7 linked regions of the Homo sapiens genome follow. The main gene of each other region encodes a partner of the protein of the gene in region 3 in a complex. Each region holds a gene or a part of one and is shown on either strand. Other genes may lie near its edges. The genes, in order: THOC1, CHTOP, DDX39B, THOC5, SARNP, AKAP17A and PPP1R8.

What was found.
Region 1: DDX39B (region 3) and THOC1 share a complex: the UniProt entries of both Homo sapiens proteins name them as parts of the transcription/export (TREX) complex.
Region 2: DDX39B (region 3) and CHTOP share a complex: the UniProt entries of both Homo sapiens proteins name them as parts of the transcription/export (TREX) complex.
Region 4: DDX39B (region 3) and THOC5 share a complex: the UniProt entries of both Homo sapiens proteins name them as parts of the transcription/export (TREX) complex.
Region 5: DDX39B (region 3) and SARNP share a complex: the UniProt entries of both Homo sapiens proteins name them as parts of the transcription/export (TREX) complex.
Region 6: DDX39B (region 3) and AKAP17A share a complex: the UniProt entries of both Homo sapiens proteins name them as parts of the spliceosome.
Region 7: DDX39B (region 3) and PPP1R8 share a complex: the UniProt entries of both Homo sapiens proteins name them as parts of the spliceosome.

Annotation. Positions count from the first base shown.
Region 1 is NC_000018.10:244,048-247,547, forward strand, and holds part of THOC1 (THO complex subunit 1), read right to left. Parts: intron 2,409-3,500; coding exon 2,277-2,408; intron 1,786-2,276; coding exon of another isoform or gene 1,780-1,785; exon of another isoform or gene 255-1,779; intron 1-254. UniProt on the Homo sapiens protein: Component of the THO subcomplex of the TREX complex which is thought to couple mRNA transcription, processing and nuclear export, and which specifically associates with spliced mRNA and not with unspliced pre-mRNA.
Region 2 is NC_000001.11:153,637,066-153,640,565, reverse strand, and holds part of CHTOP (chromatin target of PRMT1 protein), read right to left. Parts: intron 2,272-3,500; coding exon 2,118-2,271; intron 1-2,117. UniProt on the Homo sapiens protein: Plays an important role in the ligand-dependent activation of estrogen receptor target genes. May play a role in the silencing of fetal globin genes.
Region 3 is NC_000006.12:31,539,204-31,543,318, forward strand, and holds the start of DDX39B (spliceosome RNA helicase DDX39B), read right to left. Parts: upstream 2,801-4,115; 5' UTR 2,747-2,800; intron 1,976-2,746; exon of another isoform or gene 1,898-1,975; intron 1,462-1,897; 5' UTR 1,330-1,461; coding exon 1,119-1,329; intron 72-1,118; coding exon 1-71. UniProt on the Homo sapiens protein: Involved in nuclear export of spliced and unspliced mRNA. Component of the TREX complex which is thought to couple mRNA transcription, processing and nuclear export, and specifically associates with spliced mRNA and not with unspliced pre-mRNA.
Region 4 is NC_000022.11:29,536,758-29,540,257, forward strand, and holds part of THOC5 (THO complex subunit 5), read right to left. Parts: intron 2,720-3,500; coding exon 2,573-2,719; intron 1-2,572. UniProt on the Homo sapiens protein: Component of the THO subcomplex of the TREX complex which is thought to couple mRNA transcription, processing and nuclear export, and which specifically associates with spliced mRNA and not with unspliced pre-mRNA.
Region 5 is NC_000012.12:55,800,725-55,804,224, reverse strand, and holds part of SARNP (SAP domain-containing ribonucleoprotein), read left to right. Parts: intron 1-496; coding exon 497-596; intron 597-3,324; coding exon 3,325-3,371; intron 3,372-3,500. UniProt on the Homo sapiens protein: Binds both single-stranded and double-stranded DNA with higher affinity for the single-stranded form. Specifically binds to scaffold/matrix attachment region DNA. Also binds single-stranded RNA. Enhances RNA unwinding activity of DDX39A.
Region 6 is NC_000023.11:1,594,604-1,598,103, reverse strand, and holds part of AKAP17A (A-kinase anchor protein 17A), read right to left. Parts: intron 2,721-3,500; coding exon 2,572-2,720; intron 1-2,571. UniProt on the Homo sapiens protein: Splice factor regulating alternative splice site selection for certain mRNA precursors. Mediates regulation of pre-mRNA splicing in a PKA-dependent manner.
Region 7 is NC_000001.11:27,840,782-27,844,281, forward strand, and holds part of PPP1R8 (nuclear inhibitor of protein phosphatase 1), read left to right. Parts: intron 1-232; coding exon 233-453; intron 454-2,404; coding exon 2,405-2,549; intron 2,550-3,500. UniProt on the Homo sapiens protein: Inhibitor subunit of the major nuclear protein phosphatase-1 (PP-1). It has RNA-binding activity but does not cleave RNA and may target PP-1 to RNA-associated substrates. May also be involved in pre-mRNA splicing.

The sequences.
Region 1 (3,500 bases), on a different chromosome or scaffold from region 3:
TGGTTACCCTTTTAATATACATGAAAAGGAATATTCAGTATTCCTTTCCTACTCCTGAAGATTACAAGGACTGCCATAATTTTAAATTACTCACTAAACATCTCTGCTTTCCCCTTCCATATTATTACTGTCATCTAGTTAAGTTCCACGTTAATAAAATTTTTTAATTAAAAAAATTTTAAATCATTCATGACTTTTTTGTGTTTATAGTCAATAGTAAATTTACTGTCATATTTTTCAATTTTTGTGCTCACCGTTGCCTTCTGTATCCCACTCCATTCTTATGGGTTCAATTTCCTTCCTCCTGAAGAACATCCTTGAGTAGTTTTTTTCAAAATGAGGGTCACTGAGTGGTAAGTTATCCTGGTCTTTAAATAAAAATGTCTTTCTTTCATCGACAGTCTTGAGTATATTTAACTCGGTATAAAATTCTAGATTGAATGTCATTTTTCTTTCAGCACTTTAATATTTCTCTACTGTCTTCTGGTATTAATGGTTGATATGTTAGAAATCTGCTAACAGTCAAACTGCTGTGCCTTCCCAGTATATTTGTCTTTCTTATCCCTTAGTGGCTTTTAGGTTTTCTCTGAATGCCCACAGTTATGGCATGATGTAATGAAGAGTAGATTTATCTTTCTTTATCCTGCTTGGCAGTTGTGACACACTTTTAAGCTGAGGATTTGAGATTTCCTTCAATTCTTTGCAATCCAGTTTCTCTACCATTCCCTCCATTTTCTTCTTTGGAAATCCTACTAGACAGATGTTGGAAATTCCCAATCTATTCACCATGGCTTTTAACTGCTCTTCCACTTAAAAAAAAAAAATCTGTCTGTGCTGCTTGCTGGATGAAGTTCTCATCACCTTCTTCAGTTCACTAGTTCTTTGTTCATCTATGTCCAGTGTATAGTTTAATTCTGTGTGCTGAGTTTTGGTTTCAATTATTGTATTTTTCATTCCCAAGACTCCCGATTAGTTGTATCGACTGTCCTACTTCATTTCAGCCTGCTTTTGTTTCATGATTTCTTGTTCCTTTTCAATGGATGTTATCTCATCGATTATCTTTTTGAGTATCCAAAACATACATAAAGTCTTGGTCAGGCTATATATTTCATCTGGAATAAATATATATATATATCCCAATAGTTGATTTTGCTGGTGATCCTTCTTAGCATTAGATTTATGGATTTTGGAATTTTAATTTATCAGAGTTTTGAACAGGAGCCTTTTCTTTTGGGATGTTTGTTTACTTCCTTTCCCCTCCCTCTCTGTGTACATCCTTCCCTGTCTAGCAGTTTTGCATCTGCTTCTACCAGGGCCCCTGAGTCCAAAAGTCTAGAAGAAGTCTTATGATGACTTCTTGGAGCAGCTGTTTCATAAGTATACTGAGCATATCACATATCTGGTCACTGAGCAAGCAGATGGACACAAAGCTGTCTTTGTTATCCCTAGGCTCACAACTTCCTATAAAACCATAGCCCTTGGCAGAAGACTGGCAATATTTTTTCTTAGTTTCTTCCCAAAACTGGATAAAAGTTCCACCCTAGTCCTTGGCTTCAAGAAGTGAATCTGGCTCTGGCCCCTTGTCCCACATGGTGCACATTTAGTCTCTGTTACTTGTAGCCAAATTCCTGGACACCACCACCTGCCTTGGATAGAGAGTCCAGCAGGCCCAGGCTGCAGTTTTGCTCACTACTTGGCATTTCTGGTCCATGAAGATATTTATCTTGTTTCTGGAAGCCCAGCCTTGTCTCTTTTGTTTTCTCGTTTATATTTTACCCGTCATTGCTATGTGTTTGGAGCAAAGGGAGTGAGTCGAAACATAAACTCAATGTGCCATCTTGACTAGAAACTTTACATAATCTTGTAGCATTATATTTGAATAAAATTTACTTTTTAAAATGTATAAATAAGATTAACAAGGAACTTTTAAACCCCTTACTTGCACCTAAATAATAATTATGAAATATTTTCATATACAAATTAAATCCTAACTTGACATTTAAAATATATAGACATGAAAGTAATTAAACTGCATTTATTCCAAAATTAGTTTACAAAACAGACTTAATGTAGAACTACTTTCACCTTTGAAACCAAATTAGTCCTACTTCTGAAAGGAAGAAATGGGACTTTCAAACTAACATTAATCAATCAGCTTTAACCCAAAGTAAAATAAGAAACATTTCTATTCAGTTTAACTTAGAAAGGCTGTCAGCTAAACGGAAATAAAACAAGACCATTTCTTATTATGCTTAATGAAAAAGAAAAACTTATACCTTTTCACTTGTTAAAAATTTTGCAAAATATACATGTTCTCCTCCTGTTTTCAATTCTTCCATCTTTTTTCTTGAGGCCTGAGTATCATCTAATTTATAACTCTTAAAAACAGCTAAAACTTCTTCAGAATACTGCAAAATAAAAATATTAGTTTTATTCGACATTGTTACCCAAATTTGTTTAGTGCTTTTCTGCATCAAAATGCCTAGAATTTACTCCCAGTCAATCATGTATGTAGACTGTATATTGCAAGGCACACTAACAATACAAATTATGATAGCAGAATGGGAGTTAAAACTATTTTGTATGATATTTCACTTGTTGCAAAAGTAGGTACAAGCTCCCTACTCCTAAAGAAATATAATTTCTTGGCCAGTGGTGGTGGCTCACGCCTGTAATCCCAGCACTTCGGGAGGCGGAGGGGGGCGGGTAACTTGAGATCAGGAGTTTGAGACCAGCCTGGCCAACATGGTGAAACCCCGTCTCGACTAAAAATACAAAAATTAGCCAGGTGTGGTGGCGGGCACCTGTAGTCCCAGCTACTCAGGAGACTGAGGCTGAAGAATCCCTTGAACCTGGGAGGCTCCGTCTCAAAAAAAAAAAAAAAAAAAACGAAGAAATATGATTTAAGAAGTCTGTGTAAGGGACAAATAGATTAGGGAACATTTTTAAGAGTGTACAGAAATTTACCAGTGAAATTGTTTAACCACCTGTGGAAACTCTTACGCATTTCTTGTGCTAAAAACTGAGCAAATAAATTCCACCAAATTCTGTCCAGTTAGAAGACAATTCCAGATTATTTCTCACTAACCACTTAATCTGAATTTGGATGGTGCTGCCCCCACAAAAAATTGCATATAAAACAAAAACTATTAAAAATAACATAACACACACCATGCTATTCTGAGAACTACCTATTTATCTTAGATTTTAATTATGACAAAAAAGGACAACTGATCTTTAAGTAGCCAAGAAAAATATAACAAATTCTTCTAAAACAGGATTGGCAAACTTTTTCTGTAAAGGACCAGAGAGTAAGTATTTCAGGCTTTGTGGCCTTTATAATCTCAGTTGCAACTACTCAGCTGTGCCATTATAGTGCAAAAACAGCCACAGGTAAGTGGATGGTCATGGTACTATTCCAATAAACCTTTGTTTATAAGCAGTAGGTTAGATCTGGCCCAGAGCCATGACTTGAGGACTTCTGTTTCAACAAGATAGCT
Region 2 (3,500 bases), on a different chromosome or scaffold from region 3:
TCAGGTGATCCACCTGCCCAGGCCTCCCAAAGTGCTGGGATTACAAGTGTGAGCCACCATACCCAGCCTAAATTAAAAGCAAATTTTACTTATTTTCTTGAGACAGAGTCTCACTGTCACCCAAGCTGGAATGCAGTGGTGCCAACTCCACTCACCGCAACCTCCACTTCCTGGGTTCAAGAGATTCTCCTTAGCCTCTTGAGTAGCTGGGATTACAGGTATGCGCCACCATGCCCGGCTTTTTTTTTTTTTTAGTAGAGATGGGGTTTTGCCACATTGGCCAGGCTAGTCTCAAACTCCTGACCTCAAGTGATCCGCCTGCCTTGGCCTCCCAGAGTGCTGGGATTACAGGCCTGGCCTAAAATTAAATTAAAAAAAATTAAGCTCCTTAATTGCACTAGTCACATTTAAAGTTTTCAATAGCCACATGTGACTAGTGGCTACTGTACCGGAGAGCAAATACAGAACATTTCCATCATTGTAGAAAGTTCTGGCTGGGCACGGTAGCTCATGCCTGTAATCTGAACACTTTGGGATACTGAGGCAGGCAGATCACTTGAGGTCAGGAGTTCAAGACCAGTCTGGCCAACATGACAAAACTCCGTCTCTACTAAAAATACAAAAATTAGCCGGGTGTGGTGGCGGGCGCCTGTAGCTGAGACAGGAGAATCGCTTGAACCCGGGAGGCGGAGGCTGCAGTGAGTTGAGATTGCACCACTGCACTACAGCCTGGGTGACAGAGCAAGACTCCGTCTCAAAACAAACCAAACCAAACCAAACCAAAAACATAAAAAAATTCTATTTAATAGTACTACTCTGGATAGGGACTACTTCCTGCAGAGCCTATACTTAAAGCTTCTTGTTGAAAGGTCCTTTGGAATGATCTGTCAGAGATTCATCTTCAGCAACTTCCATTTACTCTTGGAAAATGGTGCCTTTTGCTGCTTTCCTGAGTCAGGGAGGAATCCAGTCACTCCAAGGCTTAAGGTAGCCGAAGCAGACACCCTTGTTTATTTTTGGTCAGTGAGCCCAATGGTTCAGGGTGGGGGTGTAAGGGTGTTATATTTAACTGCTGAATTTATGCATAGCCATGCAATGCTACCAAAGCCCTTACAGTTGCATGGCACTGCCCTCCAGACGCCCAGCCACAGCTTGGACATATCCTTCCACAGCCACTGTCCGGACTTGCATATAAATTCTATGAATAATAAAGAGCAGGTTTTATTTCAGGTCTGAATAGGATTATCTCTCACTGTAAATTTGAAAAAGAGAACCCCTAACTCAAATTACTCAGTATTCTTGCTCCACTTTACTGGTAAAACTTTAGGTGCTGTGGAAATGAGGGTCACTCTACTCTGTATATTTTAGCATTGAAAACCTTTGACTGCTGGGCGCGGTGGCTCAAGCCTGTAATCCCAGCACTTTGGGAGGCCGAGGCGGGTGGATCACGAGGTCAGGAGATCGAGACCATCCTGGCTAGTATGGTGAAACCCTGTCTCTATTAAATATACAAAAAAATTAGCTGGGTGTGGTGGCGGGCACCTTTAGTCCCAGCTGTTCGGGAGGCTGAGGCAGGAGAATGGTATGGACCCGGGAGGCGGAGCTTGCAGTGAGCCGAGATCGTGCCACTGCACTCCAGCCTGGGCGACAGAGCAAGACTCCGTCTAAAAAAAAAAAAAAAAAGAAAACCTTTGACTAAGGCCATGCAAACTCCCTGCACTATGGGAAAAAGAATAAAATTATTTCCCTGTTGGGTAAATCATTTAACAGAGAGTAAAGGATGCTGTGAGATTATCTAAAGCTGAAATAAAGTTTCTTTGTGGAATAAGCCATTAATCTATGTTAAGGGTTAAGGATCAGAAAACAAAAGATTAATACTCATTGGTAACAGAAACAGGCCACATAGATGGCAAACTCCCTAAAAGAGAAAGACAGTAAAAAGTTACTTATTGGTACCTGCCAAAATTGGAATTCTCTGAACTTCTCTTTCTTCCAGAGAAGTTTCAGCTTTTTGCCCTGAGCCACTTTGCAATCATCCATCACGTCCTGACAGCCTCAGTGGACTCCCTCACAGAGATCACCAGCTGCTTCTGGAGCATTAAGACCCATTCTCTCACCTGCTTAAGTTTTAATGCTGCCTGGACAGAGGGTCTATTCTCCATCTGCTGGGCCAGTCTTCTGTTTCTGGCACTGGCTAGCTGCTGTTGTTGCTGCATCGAAGCCCGAATATTCACTGGCGTCGGCTGTTTGTTCTTCAGCATATTAGTAAAGCTTCAAGGTCGAACAAAATGGATGTTTAAATAAAAGCTTTATTACAAACATTTATTGGCATTTTCATGGCTTGCTAGACCAGGAGCTCCAGATCCCACGAACTTTTAAGTAAAGTGGTACACTTAGATCAAGGCTGATGTGGGTTAAAGACTCCTCTGTTTCCACAAACTTGCAAGAATCAGAAACTTAGAAATGCAGCTAAGTGCAGCACATTCAACCAAAAGTGATAACGAGGGCTCAGGTAACGGCTTTTAGAGAGGTGGAAGGTATGAAAAACACGCAATAAGCAGATATGACAAGAGACAGAAGATATAGTTTCAAAGACAAATGAAGAAAGCCTAAACCTTGGGGGATCCGAGGTGCATTCTAAGGCCAAATATGAGGAAGGATTAGAGCACCTTCAAAGCTCACAGCAATGAACATACTCTCATAAATTACAGGAGTGTATCACATTTTAAAATATATGTCACTAACATGCAAACATAAATATTATGCAAACATAAATAATTAGCTTATCATAGCCAAAGAGATAAGGAGAGAAGCACATATGCCTCAGAAGAGGCAAAAATAGACATTAAGTAAATTTCAGTGGTCGAAAGTCAACTTAATGAAATCACTGATCAAAGGCATTCTTTTTTTTGAAACGGAGCCTCACTCTGTCCTCTGTTGCCCTGGCTGGAGTGCAGTGGCAGGATCTTGGCTCACTGCAACCTTCGCCTCACGGGTTCAAGTGATTCTCCTACCTCAGCCTCCTGAGTAGCTGGGATTATAGGCACACGCCACCACGCCCAGCTAATTTTTCTATTTTTAGTAGAGACAGGGTTTCACCATGTTGGGCAGGCTGATCTCAAACTCCTGACCTCGTGATCCGCCCGCCTCAGCCTGCCAAAGTGCTGGGATTACAGGCATGAGCCACCGCGCCTAAACAAAGGCACTCTTAATGAACAAAGTTGTCAGAGATAGAAACTGCCTTTGAATATCTTTACTTTTCTTAGTCTCCAATCATCACTTTTTCTGACTCCAAGTAGTTACTTTTCAAAGTTACATCAGTTTGATCATTTATGAGCCTGTGAAGAGACTCATTATTTCTGTCAAGGAAGTATAATGGAATGGAAGAGAAGAACACTTAACTGTAGAAGAATCCAAAACAAAACCAAACTAAAAGCAGAATGGAAAGAAAGTGAAATGGAGCAAAGCGAGTGCCTCTTACAAGGCCCAAGAATGACATT
Region 3 (4,115 bases):
TCCCATGCCCGACTTGGCCTGGCACAGGACATCCATTCCCAGAATGGCCTGAGGGATGCACTCATGCTGGACTAAAAGTTGGGGGGGGAGGAAGATAAATTAGACTTCAGTCTCCAGATAACTCTACCTTTTTCACCATGCCAAGCCCATTTCTTACCACTCAATTCTCAAAGTCTAGTATTTACCTGGTTCTTGCCAACTTCCAGACCCATTTTACCTCTCTCTGCTCAATTACATTCACCTCAAAATCAGACTCTCCTAATTCCTCCTAGCTTTAGCCTCCTCCAGATCTAGGCCTTCCCAGTCCTAGTAACAAACCCCTTGCATCTACCAACCGCTCACCTTCAATGATCCTAGCTCTGTCCTTATTTTTCTTAATCTGTAACAATTCATGACATTTGAATACCTGCCACAGACCACTTCTCCTGCTTAGGTTGCTATACTTCGGGTCACGTAACTACTACAACCCTGGACAAAATGAAGGACTTGGTACCTGACCCAGAAGCCAGTCATCTCTAAACCAGTCATAGAGGTTTCCAGAGACCACAGTTGGCCTGGCCCAACAGAGGGAGACTACAGGTCCAAGCAGGACCTTTCTGGAAATTTAAAATTAGAAGTCAAGTGACAAAATTAAAAATAAGCAGACAAGAAAAGCCAGTCACAAGAATGAATGGCAGACCTGGAAGTCACTTTTGGATCATTAGCACTTTGGTGCTATCACGAAAGAAAGAATAAGCCTGTATAAGCCTCCTCTATCCAAAATTGTTTTTGATACTTATCCCCTGATTTTTTCTTCCTCACTGTCGCCCCGGCTGGTGCACAGTGGTGCAATCACGGCTCACTGAAGCCTCAACCTTCACCTGCTTAATTTCTGAACGTTTTGTAGAGACAGGAGTCTCGCTGTGTTGCCCAGGCTTCTCTTGCACTTTTGAGCTCAAGTGGCCACCCTCCTGCCTCGGCCTCCCAAAGTGCTGGGATTACAGGCGTGAGCCACTGCACCTGGCCCTGATCTAGCCTTAAGTATAAACCCTTACCACCACCTGAGCAACGACAAACACATCTTTGTATTGTACCCTTAAAGAGCCCAATGAGCACTACATGCCCAAGAGAAAATTTACCTTCTGACGGATGCTCAAAGCCACAGTCGACAATGGCCCGGAGCAACTCTGGCTTGAGCAGGAAGTCACGAAAGCCAGAGCTGTGGATGGAGACATAGGAGCCCTTGACATCCTTCTTGGCAGGGGCCTCAGCCCCATCTCCCCCAGCTGCTGTCTCCACCTCATCATCTTCATAGTCCAAGAGCTCATTGTCCACATCGTTCTCTGCCATAACTGGGCCGGCAGGGGAAGAAGGGAAGGGGGATCTGGATGGGTTCTCGCAAAATAGGTGAAAACAAGGGGTGAAGAGTAGGGGATTGAGGAACAGCAAAGGAAAACAAAGATACTATTTCTAACAGAAGAGCTGGAGGGGGGAAAAAAAAAAGCAAGACTTAATCACGAGCACAGCCTTCACCACCTCTTTTCCATCCCCAGTTCCCACTTTCCCTAAACCAGGAAACTTTTACCTGGAAAGAAAAACAGATACAAAACATAAAAACGAAAAGCAAATATAACAGAACAGAAAAAGCAGTACCAGGGAAAGTGGTTAGGACAGAGGTTCCCAACAAGATTAGCAATCACAGTAGCGGAAACCAGAAAAGTTGGAAGGGGAAGACCAACTTATAAATTCTTGATCTGAAAGTAACAGTGAGGAAATAGAATAGATAATAAAAGGTAAAATACGACTAATAACTTAGTAAAGTGGAAAATGGAGATGACAAGTAGAGTCCTGAAAAGTCCTCAAAGGAAGACTCCGCTTTCCCTATTATAATCCCACCGTTATGGATGCCTAACTCAGCAGCCATCAGTCAAGGGTGATAGATGAGGGTCATCACTGCGCAAAGCGCTCACCTTTCGAAAAGAAAACATCATATGGCCGCCGTCCACCTCCCATAGCTCTCAGCCTCCCACTTCTCAGTATCCTCCCTTCCGCTGTTTAAGCAAGCCTTGTGTAATTAGCATGGGGGGGAGGGGCGGTGCAAGACAAATGGCTCGGCCACAAAAAAACAAAATTCATGTCTCCACCCTACAATAAGAAAGCTAATAGGTGACAGAGAAAGGCAATCCCCGCCCAGGCTTTAACAGGATCTTTACCAAGTGGTCTCACATCACTGTTACGCTACGAAGGTGAGACTCCTTTTGGAGAAACATACAATGACACCAATCGTATCGTAAACACTTGGAAGGCACTCCAAATTAAGTTGGGCAAGTCAAGGTGAGAAAAATCCAACTGGGCCCAGAAACCAGCTCCTCCTCCCAGTCCCACCGAGGGCCGAGAAAGAGCTCAAGAAAGGACAAGGAAGGTGAGAAGAGCCCCGCCCTCCGCAAATACCAAGACCAAGGGACGCCGAGCGCCGCCTCTCATTGATGCTGAGGCCTCCAATATGAGAAGAACCCATTGGAAGAAGGGAGCAAAACGAACACAATGGCGCCGAGGACACCATCTTGGATTGGGTCCCCCCTTAGCTTCCCTTCCTTCCCCCAGGAGCTCTTTGCTCTCGAAAGGGATGCAAGCTAAGGAAATAGCGAACCAACTAGGCCCCAGCGACCAGACCATCGCCTGTGAAAAGGGTATCAGGAACCCATGTGACGGGATGGGTGCGGAGAAGCGCAGATGGAAACGGATTGTAGCGAAGGCCAAAGCTTACCTAAACAGGGAGAGCGCGTATGGCGGCAGCAACAGCGACGAAGGAGGGAAATCTGCCTTCACTTCCGGTTGCAGGCTTCCCTCTACTCCAGCCTCCCGCCTTCTTGGCTGCAAGAGCGCAGGCGCAAGGGACCGGAAACAGGGCCTTCCGCGGTTATACAGATCCGTGCGCTCCAGGCTTGCCTTTGGAAAATGCCTGTCTGAAATTTGTTTTAAAACCGTTTCTAACTTCACTGCTACCGCCAGTAACAAAAGATATAAAGGAAACTAACGTCTCCCCCCCACTGTTATCTTTATTCTCTTATCCTACTCCTCTCCATGCCCCTCATCTCTTCGTTTAGGTTTTTGCCACGCAGGTCTTCTCTGTAGGCACCCCTCCATGGATGCGCGAGGAACGAGTGTGGCGAAGGCTGCGAGTTCCCACGGGGTCCTTGGCCCGGTAGTGAAGGTGACCTGAGGACTGCTGGGCACGCACTAGGAACCGGCAGGCCCTAGCTGAGGGGAGGGAGGAGGGAAGTCTCAGGGAACTGGATTGCTCGGGGGTGTTTCCCGACTCTTTCCCAGTCGTGGGGCTGGTGGGCGGTATTTTCCCAAAAGGATGCTGTCCGAGGTAGCTGATGCCCTAGGGCCAGTGAGTCAGGAAGGTGTTCTGAATCCGAGCGGGAAGACGGGGTCTGGATTCGGCCCCAAGTGTTAATAGTAGGGCTTGAGGGTTATACTACATTCCATTAATACTGTTTTTGTTTTTGTTTTGAGACAGAGTCTCGCCCTGTCGCCCAGGCGGGAGTGCAATGTCCTGATCTCGGCTCACTGCAACCGCTGCTTCCCGGGTTCAAGCGATTCTCCTGCCTCAGCCTCCCGAGTAGCTAGGATTACAGGCGCCCGCCACCACGCCCAGCAAATTTTTGTTTTTTTAGTAGAGACGGGGCTTCACCCATGTATGACCTCAGGTGATCCACCCACTTCGGCCTCCCAGAGTGCTGGGATTACAGGCGTGAGCCACCGCGCCCGGCCCATTAATACTGTTAATTCGAGCAGAATGTTCTTGGCCCCGCCCCAACAGCCCCATTGTTCAACCTGGATTTTTTTCCTGAATGAAACATTTGCTATCCCCGTCTTTGAGATGGGGAGCTACAAAAGTAAGACCTGATGTCCTGCTGTGTAATAAAACAACAAACGTTTGGCCCTCTCCCTGTTAACATACTTAATCATTTAATACTAAGGAGTAGGTACCGTTATTCTCATCTTATTGACAGAAGCGAAGCAAAGCAACATATCTCAAGCAGTACGGCTGGTGAGGTTACAGCCAGGATGCAAACATCTCTCATTCTCTATTGTATTCTGCCTCCCTGCTCAAAGAATCTGGTTAG
Region 4 (3,500 bases), on a different chromosome or scaffold from region 3:
CATTGTCACCTGATATCCCCCAGTGATACCTCAACATGCCTGTTCACTGTCAGACTCCACCTAATAGTAGCAGCCATGATTAACTGCCAATGTTTATCCAGCACTCAATGTGTGCCAGGTACTTTGGTGAGCTCTTTAAAAGCATAATTACATTTAATACTTATAAAGACCCTGGAAGACAGGGACTTTGCTTATCCCCAAAGGAGGAAACCAAGGCTCAGGCAAGTAGATAACTTGCCCAAGGGCATCCAGCTAAGAACAAACACTGCGCTAGGCTTTGGATCCATGTCTCTTGCTCTCCAGAGGCTCTGTCTGCTCTGTAACCACTAGGGAATACACATGCCATCTTCTGCTCCATTTCTTGCTTGAGAGGTAAGACCTAAAACTTTCACAAACATGGACTTAGCAGCTATATAACCCAAAAGAGGCCCATGGACTGGCCTGGTTAGCACAGGGTGGGAACAGATTCTGGACCAGTGCCACAAGAATGCAGCACTGATGGCTGAGTCAGTGCCCAGCACAATCAGTGGACTGGACAGCGGAGTGACAGGTCAGCCCCATCTGCTAAGACACTGACACAAATTTCCTAAGAACCAGACTCGGCCGGGAATGGTGGCTCATGCCTGTAATTCCAGCACTTTGGGAGGCCCAGGCAGGCGGATCACCTGAGGTCAAGAGTTCGAGACCAGCCTGGCCAACATGGTGAAACCCGTCTCTACTAAAATACAAAAATTAGCTGGGCACAGTGACATGCGCCTGTAATCCCAGCTACTCAGGAGGCTGAGACAGGAGAATCGCTTAAACTGGGGAGGCGGAGGTGAAACCCCCAACTCTATTAAAAATACAAAAATTGGCCGGGCACAGTGGCTCACGCCTGTAATCCCAACACTTTGGGAAGCCGAGGCAGGTGAATCACGAGGTCAAGAGGTAGAGACCATCCTGGCCAACATGGTGAAACCCCGCTTCTACTAAAAATACAAAAATTAGCTGGGCGTGGTGGCACACGCCTTGTAGTCCCAGCTTCTCAGGAGGCTGAGGCAGGAGAATTGGTTGAACCAGGGAGGTGGAGGTTGCAGCAAGCCGAGATCACACCATTGCATTCCAGCCTGGGCGACAAGAGTGAAACTCTGTGTCAAAAAAATAAATAAATAAATAGATAAATAAATAAATAAACCTCTTTATTCATATAGAAAAGTTTATACCTAAAGTGTGACTTGAAGCATTATTTATTTATTTATTTTTTGAGACGGAGTCTCATTCTGTCGCCCAGGCTAGAGTGCAGTGGCGCAATCTCGGCTCACTGCAACCTCTGCCTCCCGGCTTCACGCCATTCTCCTGCCTCAGCCTCCTGAGTAGCTGGGACTACAGGCACCCGCCACCATGCCCGGCTAATTTTTTATATTTTTAGTAGAGACGGGGTTTCACCATGTTAGCCAGGATGGTCTCGATCTCCTGACCTTGTGATCCGCCTGCCTTGGCCTCCCAAAGTGCTGGGATTACAGACGTGAGCCACCTCGCCTGGCTGAAGCATTATTTATGACAGCAAAAAATGGAAACAACCTAAAATCCAACAGGGGAATAATTTTGTGCATTTTTCTATACACCAGAATATACACTAGAATGTTGCACAACCTCCTGAAATAGTGTTTACAAAGCTTTCTGCCATAGGCATACACTTACAGATAAGGGGAAAGGCAAATACAAAATTAGATTTATGGTACAAAAGATAAGGTCTTCGGCATTAAAATTTCAAGGAGAGACCAGGCATGGTAACTCACACCTGTAATCCCAGCACTTTGGGAGGCCAAGGTGGGAGGATCACTTGAAGCCAGGAATTCAAGACCAGCCTGGGTAACAGAGTGAGAACCCTGCTCTACAAAAATAAAAATATTAGCCAGGCATGGTGGCAGGCACCCATAGTCCTGGCTACTTGGGAGGCTGAGGCAGAAGGATCGCTTGAGCCCAGGAGGTCAAGGCTGAAGTGAGTCGTGATAGTGCCACAGCACTCCATCCTGAGCAATAGAGTGAAACGCCATCTCTTTGGAAAAAAAAAAAAAAAAAAAAAAAAAAGGGCCAGGCACAGTGGCTCACGTCTGTAATCCCAGCACTTTGGGAAGCCAAGGCAGGCAGATCACTTGAGGTCAGGAGTTTGAGATCAGCCTAGCCAACATGGTGAAACCCCATCTCTACAAAAAATACAAATAATAGATGGGCGTGGTGGTGCACACCTACCACCCAGCTACTCGGGAGGCTGAGGACTGAGAATCACTTGAACCTGGGAGGCAGAGGTTGCAGTGAACTGAGATCACACCACCGCACTCCAGCCTGGGAGACAGAGTGAGACTCCATCTCAAAAAAAAAAAAAAAAAAAAAACCCTTAAGCAATTATAACCCCAACCCCATCCATGATGAGGTTGGTGAAGTTTAAACTATCCAGTGTGATTTAATCATAAAATGGGATTTGGTCTTAGAAACTATTCTGAGAGTTGCACAGTGTTTTGCTGCCTTATCCTGGGTCATGACAAAGCACTGACACTTTGTGGTTAAAAGGTCAGGAAGGAGGAAATGCTACCTTTTCCGCTGCTCCAGCTCCCAGTCCAGACGTGCCAGTGTTTGCTGGTGAGGGTCTCCCATGGTGACTTCGGCCTTGCTGATATCTGGTGGAGCCTCCTTATAAAACTCCTCTAAACTGACCAGATCAATTTCTTCATGCTTTGACCTACAGACAAAAACATGACATCAAGCTGCTGTTCTCAGGAAACTAAACTGTAGTTTAAGCAGGCCCAAAGTTATCCCCAACATATGCCTGCTTAGTCCTGGTCTACAGGATCCTGGAATCCAGTCTTCTCCACAAATGCTCATTAGCAGATATTTCAGTGTGAAGAAAGGTAGTTGGTGACATGCCATAGGATCCTTATCCATGCTGTCCAACCTTTTTACCCATGAATTAAAGACTCGGAAGGGATTCTTATCAAATTTACAAATGTCTCCAAGCTGAGCAGGAGAACTACTAGCTAAAAAGTCAAGTAAAAACACTACAGCCTGGGCCTAGGCTGTAGGGTTGAAAGCAAGACATAATTTAACAGGAATAAATACAAGGGTCTGCACTTAAGTTCAAGACATTAGCCGCGTAAGAACAGAATGAGGAAGATCCAGCATGGGAGAACTGGATGGAAAAAGATCTAGAGGCTTAAACCGTTGCATGCATAGTGATTTATATGTATAAAAGAAAAGAAATTCTGCCAGGCGCGGTGGCTCACCCCTGTAATCCCAGCACCTTGGGAGGCCAAGGCAGGTGGATTACCTGAGGTCAGGAGTTCGAGACCAGCCTGATCAACAAGGTGAAACCCCGTCTCTACTAAAAATTAGCTGGGCGTGGTGACGCATGCCTGTAATCCCAGCTACTTAGGAGGCTGAGGCAGGAGAATCGCTCGAACCCAGGAGGCAGAGGTTGCGGTGAGCCAGGATTGCGCCATTGCACTCCAGCCTGGGAGACAGAG
Region 5 (3,500 bases), on a different chromosome or scaffold from region 3:
ACATTAGCTAATGCATCTACCTAATTCTATGGTGGTTAGACCTGTATGCATGTATATGGTAGATTGTAATAACGGATCTGGGATAATAAGTGGTAAGGAGAATCTGCTTTTAGATCATTGGATTTTCTACTTGAAGGTTCATTCTTCCAATATGCTGGCTGCCACAGTAGTCTTAAGAAAAAAACCTTTTTCCCCCCTCAGAATATTTAGAAATAACTAGAGATTTGTGACAGTTAGTAGGTATACAAATAGATGAGGTTTTTTATTAAAGTGTGATGTTTATTCTTCAGCATCTGTTAGGCAGTTCCTCTTGTATATTGAATATCGTTAGAGGAAAATGGATCATCTTTGTGGACCTAGAGCCTTGGTAGAATTAAGGGCAGTAATTTGGGATGGAACTTCATTTTCTTTTTTTCTTTTCCTTGTGGGAACTACCATTTTATTCACTGGTGTTCATCCTGTTAACTAAGGAAAAGTTTTATTTTTTTCCCCTCAGCTTGCCGAACTAAAGCAAGAATGTCTTGCTCGTGGTTTGGAGACCAAGGGAATAAAGCAAGATCTTATCCACAGACTCCAGGCATATCTTGAAGAACATGGTGAGTACTTTGTGGAGGCGGAGTGATGTGAGTGAGGGGATTTTCAGGCTTTGACACTGAAAAGATTTCTTTTTTTTTTTTCAGGTCATTAGCAATGTAAGCTCTTAATTAACGGCATCAAGAAAACTCTCTCTTTTTTTTTTTTGAGATGGAGTCTTGCTCTGTTGCCCAGGCTGGAGTGCAGTGACGCAGTTTCAGCTCATTGCAACCTCTGTCTCCCGGCTTCAACCAATTCTCCTGTCTCAGCCTCCCAAGCAGCTGGGACTACAGGCGAGCACCACCATGCCTGGCTGATTTTTGTATTTTTAGTAGAGACGGGGTTTCACCATATTGGTTGGGCTGGTCTAGAATTCCTGACCTCAGGTGAGCCACCCGCCTCAGCCTCCCAAAGTGCTGGGATTACAGTTGTGAGCCACCGCGCCCAGCCATCTTGTACAACCTACATCTTAGGTTGTACAAGTCCTCTATCTAATTTTTATTTACGTATTCCCTTTTATTTCTATTCCTCATTTCACTTTCTCCCCAACCCATTTAGGCACCCGTTCTAATGTGTTTGAATGTATTTTTTTGGTGTTTTTCCTGGTAAACTATGTAGTGTTGTTTTGTAGAATGTTTTCATTTATATAATTGGTAATTACATAACTGGCCATAGCCTTGCTTTATTTCTCATTTTTTTCACTAAGTATTGTGTTTTTTTTTTTTTAAAGATGCGTCCATGTGGAATGTGACTGTGTAGTTATCTAGTCTGTTGATTCTAATTCCTGCATAGCATTCAATGATGGATAACCACACATTTTACTTAATTCACTCGGTGACAGAAAATTTTATTGCCACCAAGCCTCTGCTACTATAAGTGATACTACTTATAGTATACTATATGTATATAATAGTATATAGTATATATTATACTATGGGTTGAGTGTTATATATTTGAAATGCTTGGGACTAGAAGTGTTTCAGATTTTAGTTTTTTCGGATTTTGGAATATTTGTGTATATATATAATGAGATATCTTGGGGGTGAGATCCAAGCCTAAACACAAAATTTATTTGTTTCTTATCCACATATCTGAAAGTAGTTTTATACAGTATTTAAAATAATTTTGTACATGAAACAAAGTTTTGACTGTGACCCATTGCATGAGGTTAGGTGTGGGGTTTTCCACTTGTATCATATCAGCCTTCAGAAAGTTTTAGATTTAGGAGCATTTTAGGTTTTGAATTTTCAGATTGGTGATGCTTAACCTGTAGGATATAGTATACTATATCCTATATACTAATAGTATATAGTATATTATTATGAACTACTTATTTTATGCTCTTATGTTCCTGTGAAAGTCTTTTTGGGGTATATGCCCAAGAATGGTATTGCTAATTAATATTCATAAATATATACTTAATGTGACTAAGGACTCCCAAATTATTTTCCAGAATTGCTCTGTAGATCTGCAGTCTCATTACTAGTACATAAGGGTTCTTGTATCTTCACAAACCTAAACTTGGCACTGTCCTATCAAGTGGCCTAAGTTTTGCTAATTTGTTGGCTGTTTTATGTTCTCCATGAAAAAAGTTTAAACATTTCACAATTCTTTGGGTTTCTTCTTTGCCCATTTTTCTGTTGAGGTTCCCATAATTTGCCTGTTGGCTTGCAGGCATTTCTTTTATATTCTAATAACTATTGTTTTGTTGATTTTAGGCACAAATATCTTCTTTGGCTGTGCGGGGTGGTTCATGCCTGTAACTCAGCACTTTGGGAGGCTAAGGTGGTATGATCTCTTGAGGCCCGGAGTTTGAGACCAGTCTGGGCAGCATAGTGAGATCCCATCTCTAAGAAAAATAATAAAATTAGCTGGGTGTGGTGATGTGCACCTGTAGTCCTACCTACTTGGGAGGCTAAGGCAGGAGGATCCCTTGAGCCCAGGAGGGGGAGGCTGCAGGGAGCTGTGATTGTGCCATTGCACTTTATCTGGGCGACAGAGTAAGACTCTGTCTCAACAAAAACAAATGTCTTGTCATTTGTCTTTTAAGTTTCTTTGTGCTATCCTTAAGTAGAAGTACTTAGTTTTGAAAAATCTTCAATTTTTCACCTCTTACTTTTGGTTCTGGGTTGTTTTTCTTTTAAACAAATCTTTCCCCACCACTAAATCTCAAAGATACTTTTCCACATACTTTTTTTGTTTGTTATTCAAGACTGGGTCTTGCTCTGTCACCCAGGCTGGAGTGCAGTGACATGATCTCAGCTCACTGCAGCCTCTGCCTTCTGGGTTCAAGTAATGTTCCCACTTCAGCCTCCCCAGTAGCTAAGACTATAGGCGCACACCCCCACACCCAGCTAATTTTTTTATGTTTTTTGTAAAGACGGGGTTTCGCTGTGTTCCCCAAGCTGGTCGCTTGAACTCCTAGGTTCAAACGATCCACCTGCCTCTGCCTCCCAGATTGCTGGGATTACAGAGAGCCACGGTGCCTGGCCCAACATTACTTTTAAAATTAATTCTCTAGTTTGACTTCACATTTAGTTCTTCAGTCCAACTGGAGTTCACATTTGTAATTAATGTTAGGTAGAAATCTGGTTTTATCTTCTCCAGATGTAGCAGATTTTATGTGCATCAGTTTCTGCCTTCACTGTTGGATTTTTTGGGGGAAAGCAAAGTGATTATAATTTTAACCTTGGTAAGTGATCAAGATGGTTTTGTAGCAGGGCTTGACCTGAATATTTTAATATTCTTTAGCTGAAGAGGAGGCAAATGAAGAAGATGTACTGGGAGATGAAACAGAGGTGAGTTGGATAGAGTAAGGTTAGTCTCTGGTAATGTGCCACTGCTTTGGCCACATTGCTTTAACATCAGTCATTGGAGGACTTAGATGTAAATTTATTAGGGGAGCATAAGATGGGTATGAAGGTTCT
Region 6 (3,500 bases), on a different chromosome or scaffold from region 3:
AGCTTTCAGAGGACAGCTCTCATCAAGCTCAAAGTTACACGTGAGGGCTGAACAAGCAAACATGCCTCATCTCCACCCACCAGAAAGAAATGCAGGAGGCTGCCCTGGGCCTCCCCTCATGCTCAGCCTCTGAGGAAGGACAGTGGGGGACAGCGGGGACAAGTACGGCCCTGCGTGTGGAGCCCTCCTGGCCAGCTCCCCCAGACAACAGGCCTGCCCCTCCCCGGGGCTCTGGACACCCCATCCTGCTCTCGAGAACCTCATGGCCCGGCCCCGCTTCCCCCAATCCCTCTGTGGTCTGGCCAGGCAGACGGGGTCCCTTCCCTGCAGAGACACACTCCACTACTCCAACGTCCATCTCTCCTCAGGGAAAGATCAAGGATGCAGCTTCTTCTCCGCACCCGCAAGCTGCTTTCTGAAATGTTGCGGGGACACTCCTGCGACACCGAGAGGTCCGAGGCTCTGAGTCCCACTCCACACTTCCAGAATGTGGACAGGCACATTCAGCCAGGCCTGGGCTGTGTCTGCAGCCTGGAAGAGTCCCTGTAACGCCCCAGGACTGTCTCCCACCCCAGCTGTCCTGCTCGGCCTGACAGTGGCTGACACAGGGGACCCGGACTCAACCCCACATCCGAACCGCCCCTCCCAGGGACCGCCTCCCAGGATGGCGACGCAGCAGCATGTCCCTCCCTCCCAGGGCGTCTGCCTCTCTGTGCTGCCTGCCTTAGGTCCTGGGAATCCTGACGGCTGACATGGGCCCCCCCAGCACATTCACGGCCACTCGCTTACACACTGCACCTGCCTCACCTAAGGAGCCCTCGGGGTTCAGATTCAGAGGCTGACAACCCGACTCTCCCCTGGGGAGGCAACGGGGGCTACGTAAAGAACACCACGGGCAGGATGGACCTGCTCCCAGGAGTTCAGTGCCGGGACTCTCGTGCAAACATCACCAGCCACACACATCAACACGCTGGCACCAGCGTCACATAAAGCAGTGAGAAATGGAAACAAAACGGACCAACTCGGTCCCACCAGAGGCTGTCCAGGAGCCCCCCAGCCAAGTCCAACACGTCCCAGACTTGATATCGGCGACATGAAGCGCAACAGACGTGCAGGACGCACCAAAGTCGTCAGAGGACACAGCGGGAGGGACGGAGGACGAAGAGGAGTAGGAGGAGGAGGATTCCGCCTCACTAGGAGGGTGGGAGGGACGGAGAAGGAGGAGGAGGAATCCACCTCACTAGGAGGACACGGCAGGAGGGATGGAGGAGGAAGAGGACGAATCCGCCTCACTAGGAGGGCACAGCGGGAGGGATGGAGGAGGAAGAGGAGGAGGAGGAGGAATCCACCTCACTAGGAGGGTGGGAGGGACGGAGAAGGAGGAGGAGGAATCCACCTCACTAGGAGGGTGGGAGGGATGGAGGAGGAGGAGGAGGAATCCACCTCACTAGGAGGGTGGGAGGGATGGAGGAGGAGGAGGAGGAATCCACCTCACTAGGAGGGTGGGAGGGATGGAGGAGGAGGAGGAGGAATCCACCTCACTAGGAGGGTGGGAGGGATGGAGGAGGAAGAGGAGGATTCCGCCTCACTAGGAGGGTGGGAGGGATGGAGGAGGAGGAGGAGGAATCCACCTCACTAGGAGGGTGGGAGGGATGGAGGAGGAGGAGGAGGAGGAGGATTCCGCCTCAGGGGATTCACAGAAAGTTGTTGGTTCCCTCCTGCAATGCTAAGAAGATAAAAGGGGCTACAAAGAGTGACCTGAGGTTGTCTCTGGTACCCCAACCACAGTGAACGACCCAGGCAATTGCTTTAAAGGCCTCTTATGTGAAACCGGGTTTTTGTCCTATCATTGGTTTTTTGTTTTTTTTTTTTTTTTTAAATCTGGCCATCACCATCAACCCTCTACTTCATTTTGTAAATGTAGCCTCAACCTAAATGCAAACTTGCAAACAGCCAAGGCATTCTGCTTGTTTCAGCGGGAGGTGTGAACAGCATGTGGAGGGAGAAGAGGTGGCTCTTCGGGCAAGGCGCGGTCCTGGGAGCCGGCAGAGATCGTGTCAGACCACGACGTGTGACAAGAAAAAGAGAAACATTCATATTCTGCTGCGTCTCAAACAGCCACTCACGCAGGTCCTCACGTGCACAGCTGAGCACCCACAGGCCTGCACACACACCCATACGTGCACACACAAGTACACACACGGGTTCACAGGCACACACGCATGCACACAGGCACATGTGTGCTATGTGCCGATACAGAAGCACACACATGTGGGCACACGTGCACATACACACACAGGTACACACACGAGCTCACACACATGCACGCACACACAGGCACACGTGCACACAGATGCTCAGGCACACACTCGGGCGCACATAGGGACATACAAAGTACACACACCGGTTCACAGGCACACGTGCGTCCATGCACACAGGTACACACACAAGCTCACAAGCATGCATGCACACACACACGCACAGGAATACATGCAGACACACGCACACGGGTCTGCGCACACTCCCAGGTGCCGGACACCAGCGCCGAGGGCCCGCTCCCGCAGAAGGTACCTTTCCTCCGCTCGCTGCCTCTCCTCCGCTTCCTTCTCTCTGCGCTTTTGTTCTTCTCTTTGCTGCTCCAGTTCCTGAAGCTTCTGCCTCTCCAGCTGCCGCTTCTTAATTGAGGCATCACTCAGGTGTTTGGTCGAATCAAAAGAAACCTTTAAAAGCAAAAACAGTGTCAGATGGCCTTCCCCCAAAACCCCCCAGACACACGGCCAGGCGCCCTCTCCTGGGCCGTAGGGCCGAGTGGCCTCAGAGCCTGAGCGCCCGCTCACCGCTCACCGCTCACCACTCATGTCCGGTGCAGACCCAGACAGTGGAGCCCAGAAGCCAAACCAATCCCTTCAAGTCACCATCAGTGGCTCAAGACTTAGCTCATCCCACGGAGTTACGACTCAGCGAGGAACACCAACTAGCCCTCGCCACTTACTGAACACAAGTGACACGCCACCGCTGCGAGACACAGCTCCCCTTCCGCTACCCGGCTCCACCATTCCCTGTGGCCACAGTCACTGAGCAGGCCGCCTGCCCACACCCACAGGGCACATCTTAAGGCCACAAAACCCCCTCCAGGAGGCTGGCTCATTTGTCACTGTGAAGCCAACACGGTCAAAACACGAGGCTAGGCTGAGCGCAGTGGCTCACGCCTGTAATCCCAGCACTTTGGGAGGGCGAGGCAGGCAGTTCATGAGGTCAGGAGTTCGAGACCAGCCTGGCCAATACGGCAAAACCCTGTTTCTACTAAAAATACAAAAATTAGCCAGGTGTGATGGCACGCGCCTGTAGTCCCAGCTACTCGGGAGGCTGAGGCAGAAGAATCGCTCGAACCCAGGAGGCGGAGGATGCACTGAGCAAAGATTGCGCCACTGCACTCCAGTCCAGGAAACAGATCGAGACTCTGCCTCGAAAAAAAAATAAAAATAAAAAAAATAAAAAAA
Region 7 (3,500 bases), on a different chromosome or scaffold from region 3:
CACATGATGGATGTGGTGGACCCAGTGCCATTTTCATTTTTTAAAAAGCTGGAGTTTCTGACCATGATCCTGACTATGGCATTTTTAAAATAAATTAAAAACAGACAAAAAAGCAAAACTGATGTGCTGGGGGGAAGCTGACCTGATAAGAGAGTTGGCGATCATACTCTTCCTTCTAAAACTCAGGTTGTTTTTGTTTTCCCCCTTACGTTTCTGATTTGGTTATTCCCAGCACACGGCACTTTCTTGGGTCACATTCGGTTGGAACCTCACAAGCCTCAGCAAATTCCCATCGATTCCACGGTCTCATTTGGCGCATCCACAAGGGCATACACTCTGCGCGAGAAGCCTCAGACATTGCCATCGGCTGTGAAAGGAGATGAGAAGATGGGTGGAGAGGATGATGAACTCAAGGGCTTACTGGGGCTTCCAGAGGAGGAAACTGAGCTTGATGTAATTCCCTGTTTATGTCATTGTTTTGTCTTTGGGGACCCTGGTTTTTGGAGTATACAGCTGTTCTATGTAGCTGGAAATGCCAGTGACTTAGCAGCAGGGGGTTCTCTTGAGTCCAGTAATGGGCCTTTGGCAATCTGGTGTGGCCAGCTGTGACAGCTCTCGGAGAGCCACATTGTATGGATTTGGTTGTGTATCACCAGGCCTAACAAGGAGGCTGAGTCCCAGCCACTAGTCTCCTTGAGCTGTTTTGTGCACCTTCACTGGCTGTTAGAAGCTAAGACTGGAAGCTACATTTCTCTGTCCCTTGACTGCTTAGAGCTAATGCTGTCCAATATGGTAGCCACTAACAATATTTCAAGTATTATGTAGTCACATATGGCTAGTGGCTGCTATGTTGGCTAGTGCAAAGAGAGAATGTTTTCATCCTCACAGAAAGTTCTGTCAGACAGCACTGGCTTAGAGAGACTGACATTTTCATTCATTCATGTAGCTTTTTTTGGTGCTATCTGAACAGTCCAGGAATCTTCTGAATAGAGCCAGACTGCTTTTGTTCTTCCATGGGCCTCGCTGTCCTGAGGGCCATGAATTTTATAAGATTTAATTTTAAGGTGCTAGAAGTTTTCCTTTTTTGAAACTGACCCCAGTAGTTTGGTGTGGCTATAGTCCTTTACATAGCTGTCACTGCACTGGTGTGATTGGTCTGTTCAAATAGACCAAATGCAATCATGTCCTTAACCACCCACCTGCATTTACTATTCCTGTACACCAAGGCAGTTTCCTGGCTCTTAGGAAGAAAAGCACGATAGAAATTGTACAACTTAGGCCGGGCACAGTGGCTCATGTTTGTAACCCCAGCACTTCGGGAGGCCGAGGTGGGCGGATCACCTGAGGTCAGGAGTTCGAGACCAGCCTGGCCAACATGGAGAAACCCCATCTCTACTAAAAATACAAAAAATTAGCTGGGTGTGGTGGTGCATGCCTGTAATCCCAGCTACTCAGGAGGCTGAGGCAGGAGAGTCACTTGCACCTGGGAGGTGGAGGTTGTGGTGAGCCAAGATCGCGCAGTTGCACTCCAGCCTGGGCAACAAGAGCGAAACTCCGTCTCAAAAAAAAAAAAAAAAAAGAGAAATTTTACAATTAAGAAGTCGTTTTGTTTTGAAGAAGTGGCTTCATAGCCAGGGACCTTGCTGTTGCCCATTTCCCCTTTAGGCCACCTTATCCAGGCTGCTGCTATACTTCCATGGCTTTTAGTTCAGTATGTTAGGTACTCCCTGGATCTTCATTCTTAAGACATTTAGAATATCTCAAACTTGTGGTTTGTACCAGAAAGGAATAATTTCAGTGGATTGGGAAGAGGCAAGCAACAGAGCTAAGGCCAAGTTAATTATTGAGATAGTTATGAATAGAATTGGGGCCAGACACAGGATGGGGCATGACAAAATATTAACGCCAAAAATTAAGTGCACTAGCAGTGTCCTTAATTTTGAAGGAGAAAGCTACTAGGAAGGAAGCAGCCAGTTGTCCTTTTTCATCTCAATTTTGTTACTTAAAAACAATTCTTGGCGTTCCTTCCAGCCACATTTCCTTTTAATTCTCAGCTTATTGTGGGCATGAAGACATGATAGCCTTTCTTCAGCAACAACAAAAAACACAACTCAAGGATATTTGCACAGATGACCTGTTCTCAGCTCAAGGCCCTTTACCTCTTGAATATCACTGCCCCACTAGTCAATGAGGATGTTCCACATTCTTTCTAATGAGACTTGAGACTTGTTAGTATTCGTAGTCTCGGGACAGTATGAATCTTCTCTAAATGCAGAAGTGTCTCAACTCCCTTTGGAGGTCAAGATTAGCCCCTCATGCCTTCCTCACCTTTATTTAGTATGATTTTCTCCATCAGATTCCCTTTGTACTGACTGCTGTCTTTCCTGTATGAACCCTGGCTTAGAACCTGACAGAGTTCAACACTGCCCACAACAAGCGGATTTCTACCCTTACCATTGAGGAGGGAAATCTGGACATTCAAAGACCAAAGAGGAAGAGGAAGAACTCACGGGTGACATTCAGTGAGGATGATGAGATCATCAACCCAGGTGAGGTATCTTGCTAGTTTATTCTGATGAAAAAGCTGTGGTTGGCCCGGGCGCGGTGGCTCACGCCTGTAGTCCTAGCACTTTGGGAGGCCGAGGAGGGTGGATCACTTAAGGTCAAGAGTTCAAGACTAGCCTGGCCAACAAGGTGAAACCCCATCTCTATTAAAAAAAATACAAAAATTAGCTGGGCATGGTGGTGTTCGCCTGTAGTCCCAGCTACTTGGGAGGTTAAGGCAGGAGAATTGCTTGAACCCAGGAGGCAGAAGCTGCAGTGAGCCGGGATTGTGCCATTGCACTCCTGCCTAGGTGACAAAAAAAAAAGAAAGAAAAAGCTGTGGTTGGTCAGGCATAGTGGCTCATGCCTATAATCCCAGCACTTTGGAAGGTTGAAGTTGGTGGATTGCTTGAGGCCAGGATTTCAAGACCAGGGTGGCCAACATGGCAGAACCCTGTCTCTACAAAAAATAAAAAAATCAGCCAGGCATGGTGGCACACACCTGCAGTCCCAGCTACTCAGGAAGCTGAGGCAGGAGAATCGCTTAAACCTGGGAGGCAGAGGTTGCAGTGAGCCGAGGTTGTGCCACTGCACTCCCACCTGGGTGACAGAGTGAGACTGTCTCCAAAAAAGAGTTTCCAGGGTTGGACCTAGAAATTTATATGTTTTTTAATTTTTCTTTTTTGTGTGTGTGTGAGACACGATCTCATTCTGTCGCCCAGGCTAGAGTGCAGTGGCACAGTCACGGCTCACTACAGCCTTGACCACCCAGGCTCAGGTGATCCTCCCACCTCAACCTCCTGAGTATCTGGGACAACAGGTGCACGTCACCACGCTCAGCTAATTGTCATATGTTTTGTAGAAATGGGGTTTCATCATGTTGCCCAGGCTGGTCTTGACCTCCTGGGCTTAAGCGATCCTCCTGCCTCAGTCTCCCAAAGCACTGGGATTACAGG